Linked DNA regions of Homo sapiens. The protein of the gene in region 1 interacts with the protein of each later gene in a pairwise test. Each region holds a gene or a part of one and is shown in the gene's direction. Other genes may lie near its edges. The genes, in order: GNPAT and RAB35.

What was found.
Region 2: the proteins of GNPAT (region 1) and RAB35 interact in a two-hybrid assay, tested with the Homo sapiens proteins (one large-scale study listed by IntAct).

What each region holds. Positions count from the first base shown.
Region 1 is NC_000001.11:231,265,212-231,269,019, forward strand, and holds part of GNPAT (dihydroxyacetone phosphate acyltransferase), read left to right. Parts: intron 1-81; coding exon 82-209; intron 210-500; coding exon 501-576; intron 577-802; coding exon 803-954; intron 955-1,065; coding exon 1,066-1,196; intron 1,197-2,468; coding exon 2,469-2,692; intron 2,693-3,808. UniProt on the Homo sapiens protein: Dihydroxyacetonephosphate acyltransferase catalyzing the first step in the biosynthesis of plasmalogens, a subset of phospholipids that differ from other glycerolipids by having an alkyl chain attached through a vinyl ether linkage at the sn-1 position of the glycerol backbone, and which unique physical properties have an impact on various aspects of cell signaling and membrane biology.
Region 2 is NC_000012.12:120,099,731-120,103,538, reverse strand, and holds part of RAB35 (ras-related protein Rab-35), read left to right. Parts: intron 1-3,808. UniProt on the Homo sapiens protein: The small GTPases Rab are key regulators of intracellular membrane trafficking, from the formation of transport vesicles to their fusion with membranes.

The sequences.
Region 1 (3,808 bases):
ATGAAAAATAAGCATGTTTAAGTTTAGATCTTTATAGAAGATTTCAAGATCTGCAAATAAATATTATCCCCTCTTTTTTAGACTTCCTGGGAATGAAAATGGTTGGTGAGCTGCTACGAATGTCGGGTGCCTTTTTCATGCGGCGTACCTTTGGTGGCAATAAACTCTACTGGGCTGTATTCTCTGAATATGTAAAAACTATGTTACGGGTAAATGCAAATAATTCCCAACTACTCTTAAGCCATATTTTCTTCACTGATGTTTGCTCATTTAAACTCTTAACTTCTGAATAGAACACTTAGCTATTTTGCTTTCCCTCAAGAACTGCTTATAACCTCAGCAATTGGTTTAATCTGTGTGACTCTCTTGTTTAATTTTCACTGTAAGCTGTGTTTGTTCAGGAAGCTTGGGAGGGAGCTTGGGAAAAGGAATCAAAAGAAGCATTTATCATTTTGAGAGTAGGCAATGGGTTTTGTGTTTTGTTTGTTTTCTCTTTAAAGAATGGTTATGCTCCTGTTGAATTTTTCCTCGAAGGGACAAGAAGCCGCTCTGCCAAGACATTGACTCCTAAATTTGGTAGGTCACTACAGATTAAAAGGAAAAATACAAACCCAAAGACATCAGCTGCTACATAAAACTTGACGCTTTATTTAACAAGATATTCTTTTCAAGTGTAAATGTATAACTGTTGATATTTACGGGATTAGTGTATAATGTATGCTTTTAGTATTTTCCGTTTATGTGCTCATGTTTGCTCTGCTCTTCAATATGTTGATGAAGCATTTCTCCCTGTGTTTTGCAGGTCTTCTGAATATTGTGATGGAGCCATTTTTTAAAAGAGAAGTTTTTGATACCTACCTTGTCCCAATTAGTATCAGTTATGATAAGATCTTGGAAGAAACTCTTTATGTGTATGAGCTTCTAGGGGTTCCTAAACCAAAAGAGTCTACAACTGTACGTGAGCTTGATTTTAGCTTAATTGAGAGAATGTGCTGACTGACACATCAACTAATTTCTAAATTTACTGCTTTTCGTTTTCTTCCCCCCCTGTTATGGTACTATTAGGGGTTGCTGAAAGCCAGAAAGATTCTCTCTGAAAATTTTGGAAGCATCCATGTGTACTTTGGAGATCCTGTGTCACTTCGATCTTTGGCAGCTGGGAGGATGAGTCGGAGCTCATATAACTTGGTTCCAAGGTGTGACCTGTGTTTTAATAACTGTCTTAGAAATGAGGATTAAAATCCAAAGGTGTGAGTTGCAATGCTGGAGTTGACCACTTCTCTTGATTTACTTAAGATTACAGAGAAAATGATCAGAAATGCTGTTATCATTCCGTTTTCATCAGTGGAAACCTTCAATTAAAGAAGAATTATGTGTTTGTCCCAAAAAAAGATAAGCTGTGAGATATGTATGTCAAATATGCAAAATCAGACAATGATCATGTTTCTCAAGGGAACTAAAGTGGGAATAAATAATGCCATTATTAACAAGTATATGTGCAGGAATTGTTGAGCACTATTGGTAAGCTAGCCAAAGTATGTACTATTATTTTTGACCCTAGAAAGGATTGCATAATGGTAATGAATGGGAGTGAGTCCTTAGTCTCTAGAGAGTTATAGTTTTATAGGCAAGAAAATATATTAGGTTCTTTCAGGATAAAGAACACAGATACACATTTGAGTTTTCTTAATTAGGAGAAATATACCTGGACAAGTAAGGGAGACAAACCATCTGCCCCTCCAGGCCTCATGTGCTGCAACATCATTTGTAACTTATCTGTAGCTTTAGCAGTTTCCCAGCAGCTACATTAGTCATCACAGACGCTTATGTTAGTTTTTTTCCTGACACAGGCTCTCTCTTTAGATCTCAAATTGGTTTGGCTGGCTATTACCTAGTACAGGGCACCCTTACTGGCTGCATCTTTCACATTAAGCCACCTGTGTGGCAATTTTTAGGTCATGTGTGTATCTCTGCTCCAGCCAGCTCTGTGCAGGCCTTATTGTACTATTCAAAGTTTGGTAATCCATGCATGAAGTCAGACAAACTGAATGGCACCCATTCAGTATAAAATAGTTATTATATAATCTGTTAAGTGTGTTCTACAATGGAGATATGTTCAGCGTGCTATGCATTCTGAAAAGATAGTAATTTAGTCTACTGGGGCAGGCATCCATTCTCAGAGAAACGATGTATCCTATTTAGGAAGCAACAAAAGTTTTTTGCCTGGAACCAGGAATAATAGGACCCTGGACCCCTTCAGTATTTTTACCATCTCTCAAGAGGATATTCCAGAAATGTATGGTCAGATTACACTATAGTAAAGCAAAGGAATACTGTTTGCACCTGACCTGAGAGAATTCAGTTGGCACAAAGTATGAGAAGCCTTCTAAAACGTCTAGAGTCTTTTTCCATCCCCATTTGTCTAAGTAACAGAACTGTAATTTGTTGCTCTGTGCTCTTCCTTTTAGATACATTCCTCAGAAACAGTCTGAGGACATGCATGCCTTTGTCACTGAAGTTGCCTACAAAATGGAGCTTCTGCAAATTGAAAACATGGTTTTGAGCCCCTGGACCCTAATAGTTGCTGTTCTGCTTCAGAACCGGCCATCCATGGACTTTGATGCTCTGGTGGAAAAGACTTTATGGCTAAAAGGCTTAACCCAGGCATTTGGAGGGTTTCTCATTTGGCCTGGTATGTAGGTAGGACATATGTGTTGAGAATGCTTGCTTAATTTGGAAGAGTTAAAACCTGGACCTGAAAAATCTATAGAGGACTTGAGCAAAGGATTGCTCAGAAAGAGAAAGGACAGGCCGGGCGCGGTGGTTCACACCTGTAATCCCAGCACTTTGGGAGGCCAAGGCAGGTGGATCACGAGGTCAGGAGATTGAGACCATCCTGGCTAACGCGGTGAAACCCCGTCTCTACTAAAAAATAGAAAAAATTAACCAGGCGTGGTGGTAGGCGCCTGTAGTCCCAGCTACTCGGGAGGCTGAGGCAGGAGAATGGCATGAACCCAGGAGGCGGAGCTTGCAGTGAGCCGAGATTGTGCCACTGCACTCCAGCTAGGCAACAGAGCGAGACTCTGTCTCAAAAAAGAAAGAAAAAGAGAAAGGACACCAAATCTGTTTTTATCACTATAGGACACAGTGAACACAGCACGTTGATTATTTGAGAATAATTGTTTACATGTCATTTCCCACTACGAGACTCTGAATATCTTGAGGACTAGAATACCATTTCCTTGGCACCTAGTACGGTGGAAAATAAAGTCATGAATCCTAGCCAGGCATGGTGGTACACACCTATAATCCCAGCTACTTGGGAGGCTGAGGTGGGAGGATCACTTGAGCCCAGGAGTTCGAGACCAGCCTCAGTAACATAGTGAGACCCCATCTCCAAAAAAAAAAAAAAAAGGCCGGGCGTGGTGGCTCACACCTGTAATCCCAGCACTTTGGGAGGCTGAGGCGGGCGGATCACGAGGTCAGCAGTTCCAGACCAGCCTGACCAACATGGTGAAACTCCGTCTCTACTAAAAACACAAAAATTAGCCGGGCATGGTGGCGTGCACCTGTAATCCCAGCTACTCGGGAGGCTGAGGCAGGAAAATTGCTTGAACCTGGGAGGCAGAGATTGCAGTGAGCCAAGATTGCGCCACTGCACTCCAGCCTGGGTGATAGAGCGAGATTCCGTCTCAAAAAAAAAAAAAAATTGTACAGGCTACAGTTGGAAATGCGTTTTTTTTTAAAGACCAGATAATTATTTGAAGTCAAGTACCTACTGTTCTTTGATCAACCCAATACTGAATAC
Region 2 (3,808 bases), on another chromosome or scaffold:
CCGTCACCTTACAGAGAGAGCAGAATAGCATTTGCCTCGCTAGGGGGTTGCGAAGTGCCTTGCCCACCCAGGACTTAGTCGCTGACAATTCCTCTTGGTAGGTGTCAGTTATGGCAGCTGGAGTTGGCCTGTGCAGGCTCCCGTCACCTGCACTGATGCCTTGGAAGTGACGCTGTCTAGAGACGAACACGGTGCATGTCAGCAGGCCCTTCCCTACCCTTAAAGCTGTTCCTGGGAAATCCGGCCGCCCACCGGTTGCCCACCTTTGTGGCTGAGCTGCAGGCCGGGGGGAAGCTGGGCTCCTGCGCAGATGGGCAGTGTCCTTCGGAGCGGCTCCTGGTTATTGGGTTGTTAGTGGAGCAGGTTTTAGGAAAGAGCAGGGTCTGAAGGGGCCGATTTGGAGCTGTTGGGCTGTGTGTCCTTAGGCAAGTTGCCGAAGCTCTCTGCGCTCGTTTCCTGGAGGGCCTGCCTCTGGGATTGGCTTCCATGTGGAGGGTGCCAGGTGCTCTGCTGCAGGCGTCAACGTGCGTGCCGGGGTGTGGTGTCTGGCAGCTCTGTGTGCTTGGTGCTGCTGTCATCCCATTTGACAGAGGGCGCCCTGGAGGGGTCCCTCCCAGCGGCCAAGCCTGTGCTCCACACAGTGGCCTGTGCAGAGTGAGGGGCGGCTGTCTGGCTCCACGGGCACCTCCTTGGCTCTCTCGAGCAGCTCCTCTGGAAGTGACCTCAGGAAGGCGAATGAGGAAGTCCCAGCCAGCGGCCCCCTTCCTTCCCACAGCATGAAAGCCCGGCACTCCCCAGGCTGGCTGCCCCTGCCCCCGGGCCCCTCGGCATCTCCCGAGGGTGGGAAGTGTGGGGTGCAGCGCCCCCATGGATGGCTGGGAGTATGGGGGAGAGCAGGGCTGCTGGAGAGGGACAGGTGTGCTGGGCGAGCAGCTCCTGGGGCTGGAGCCAAGGCGGAGGGCTTGTCACTGGGTTCACCCTATGCTGAGCACATTTGTGCTGTGGCCCGTGATGCCCGGAATCCCTGGGAGCTCCCAGTCCCGGGGTCGCCCTGGTGTGGTGCTGTGTGGTGACCGTTGATGAGCCCTGTGAGCGAGGGCTCTGTGGCCTGCATGTCTTGGCAGCTGCCAGTGAGAATCTGCGGAGGACACTGGGGCAGGGCTGGCATCAGTGCTTTGGGCAGCCTGGGGCTGCAGGCCCAGGCGAGGCAAGCCCTCATGCCGTTGGCTGGTCTGGGCGCTGACCTCATGAATCCTTGCTCTGGGTTGGTCCTGTCGCTAGGATTTCAGCTGCTTTATTTTGGTTAATCCCGGTAGAGAGACCTGTGACTATCTCCATTTTATGGACAGGAAAACAGGCCCAGGGAGGATGAAGCCTCCTAACTCAGTGGGGCAGAGGTTGGGGGCACTCAGGGTTGGCCCTGAGTCTGCCGAGGCCCTGCATCGACTGGGCAGGTGGCGCCCCTGCCTTCCTGCCCCGTCCTGTGCCTTAAAACCAGGCGGAGGTTCAGGGTGGCAGAGGTTCAGAGGCCCGTGGCCATGAGGAATGAACTCCTGGGCAGGGCAGTGGGGCCTGGGGGGTCCGAGGCTCTTTCAGCAGGAGGAGCCACAGCCCCTCCCTGCCATCATGCAGTCAGCTGCTTTCTGGGCTGGGCAGAGCGGGAAGAAGGTGAACTGGTTCCTCCATTCCGTGGGGAGGCGGGGAGGAGTCACTCAGCTTCCTGGGAGCAACATGGGTTTTTCCCCAGGGGCTTGGGAAGGGGCGGCCTGTGGGCAGCGGCTGGGCCCCTGCTGCCGTCCCACGTGTCTGGGGAAGCAGACAGGTGGCTCCATCTTAGAGTCCCGCTCTGGCCCTCATGAGGCAGGAGGCCCAGCAGGGCGCCCTGAGGGGCCACTGGAAGTCTCGACGCCCTTTGATGGTCACTGGCAAAGAAGGAAGGAGTTTTGGGGAGGTGAGGAGTTTTCAGGAATAGGGCAGTCAGGATGCAGTAGCGTGACTTTTTTCCGATGCAGGGCGTTCAGAGAGAAACTGAAACTGCATCCTGTTAGCCTGGCGAGAAAAAGCCTTGTGGTCACCCCTTCTCGGGTTCTTGCTCTCAGAAGCTGAGGTTTGCCGGCCCTGAGAGGTGCGGGTGGGATGGAGGTGAGGGGAGAAGTGACAAGGAAGGCAAGGCCCTGGCGTTGGGCCTGGGAGTCAGCCCTGGGCGCCAGGACTTCCAGCTGGCCGCTGCACTCAGCCTCACGTCCTTGCTGGTCACATGGCCATCCTGAGGTCTGCTGGATCAGGTGGCTGCAGACATTAATAAGGTAATGGATACCAAGCCCCCAGCTCTGTGCCTGGCCTAGAGCAGAGTCCCTGTGAGTGAAGGTGATTCCTGGTGGCCATGGGAAACGTCGGTGCTCCGGTTCCTCCTAGCCAGAGCTCTGAGCCCCTGACTTCATCCCCAGACAAATTCTCTGCTCTCAGATAAAGCCCCTTTCCTGGGCCCCGGATGAGGCAGAGGCGCCCAGGGAGCCGCGGGGGCTGTGCGCCGGGGCCATGGCTGCAGGCGTTTCTTGGCATCTCTGATCATCTTCAGCAAAGGAGAGTCTGCAGAGCCATCCGCTCCTTGGGCTTCCTCTGCTGGCAGGGGACAGTCGCCTGTTCCTGTGGCTCCGGCGCGCCCTCGCTCTGGAAGGCGTCTGACACACCATGCCATGTGCTGACCCGGCGCTCTCAGCAGCAGCTGCCAAGGCCAGAGCTAGTTCTTGGGCCCAGTGCCAAGAGAGCTTGATCGTCACAGCTACCCCGAAGCCAAGGAGCGACGCTGCCCTGGAAGCAAAGCTGTGGGCAGAATGAAGCCCTGGGAAGAGATCCCAGCGGTCGTGTTGAGGATGGAGCAAGGATGGGGCAGGGGCGGTGGCAGGGGCAGGTTGGGCTTTGTCCCAGGGCTGGGCAGGAGCTCTGGCTCTGCAGCATCAGGGAAGATGCTCAGGGCTGCCCCTAAGCTGCCTGTTGGTTTCCTTCCACCACCTCTGTCTGGGACCACAGATTGTCCTTGAAGGCACATTGATGATGCTGAAGAACGCATACTGACTGTTTACTGCTCCCCCGCCTTGGGGTAATGCTTAGCTCCTTTCTTCCTCATGACCACCCCAGTTAAGGACTAGCCACCTGTGTGCTATAACTGTTGAAGCTGCAAGGTGTGGCAGGGTGAATGCAGGCACCTTCCCAAGGGCCAGCCTTTCAGAGATGGAGCCAGGGTTGGTCTTTGTCCTTAGATCGGGCCTCAGATGTGAAGCATTGGCCAGAGAGCTGATGGGCAGGTGGACAGGAATGGAGCTGCAGCCACAAGTCAGCCTGGCTGCCCCATTCTTGCTCAGCCTGCGCTGACTTGGGCTGTTCCTGAACTGGGGCTTGGGCTGTCCCCATGAACCTCATGGGGGTGGAGGTAATTAGGGCTGGGGCAGGTGGCAGCCAGAAAGCCGGGAGGAAGCGGCCTGTCCACTCATGGTTTGTCTGTGTGCTGTCCTGAGGAGCCCTGGGGTGGAGGTCCCTGCGGCTTTGGGGAGAGGGGACAGAGGGACAGCTCTGGCTGATTGCACAGTGTGGGGCGGGGCTGCCGCCTGGCCTCCGGCTCTTCGACAGCTCTCGGGGAAGCGGAGGCTGTGGTCCCCCTCCTCCTCCGGGGATTGATGTCGTCCTGTGCCACTGGGATGAATGGGGACATGGGGTCTGGAGAGGAGAGTTGGGCCTCCCCTTCCTTCTGGCCTTCCTGGCTGGCCCTGGGCTCTGCATGTTTGGGGTGATGGCTTTGCTGGGCGCCCTC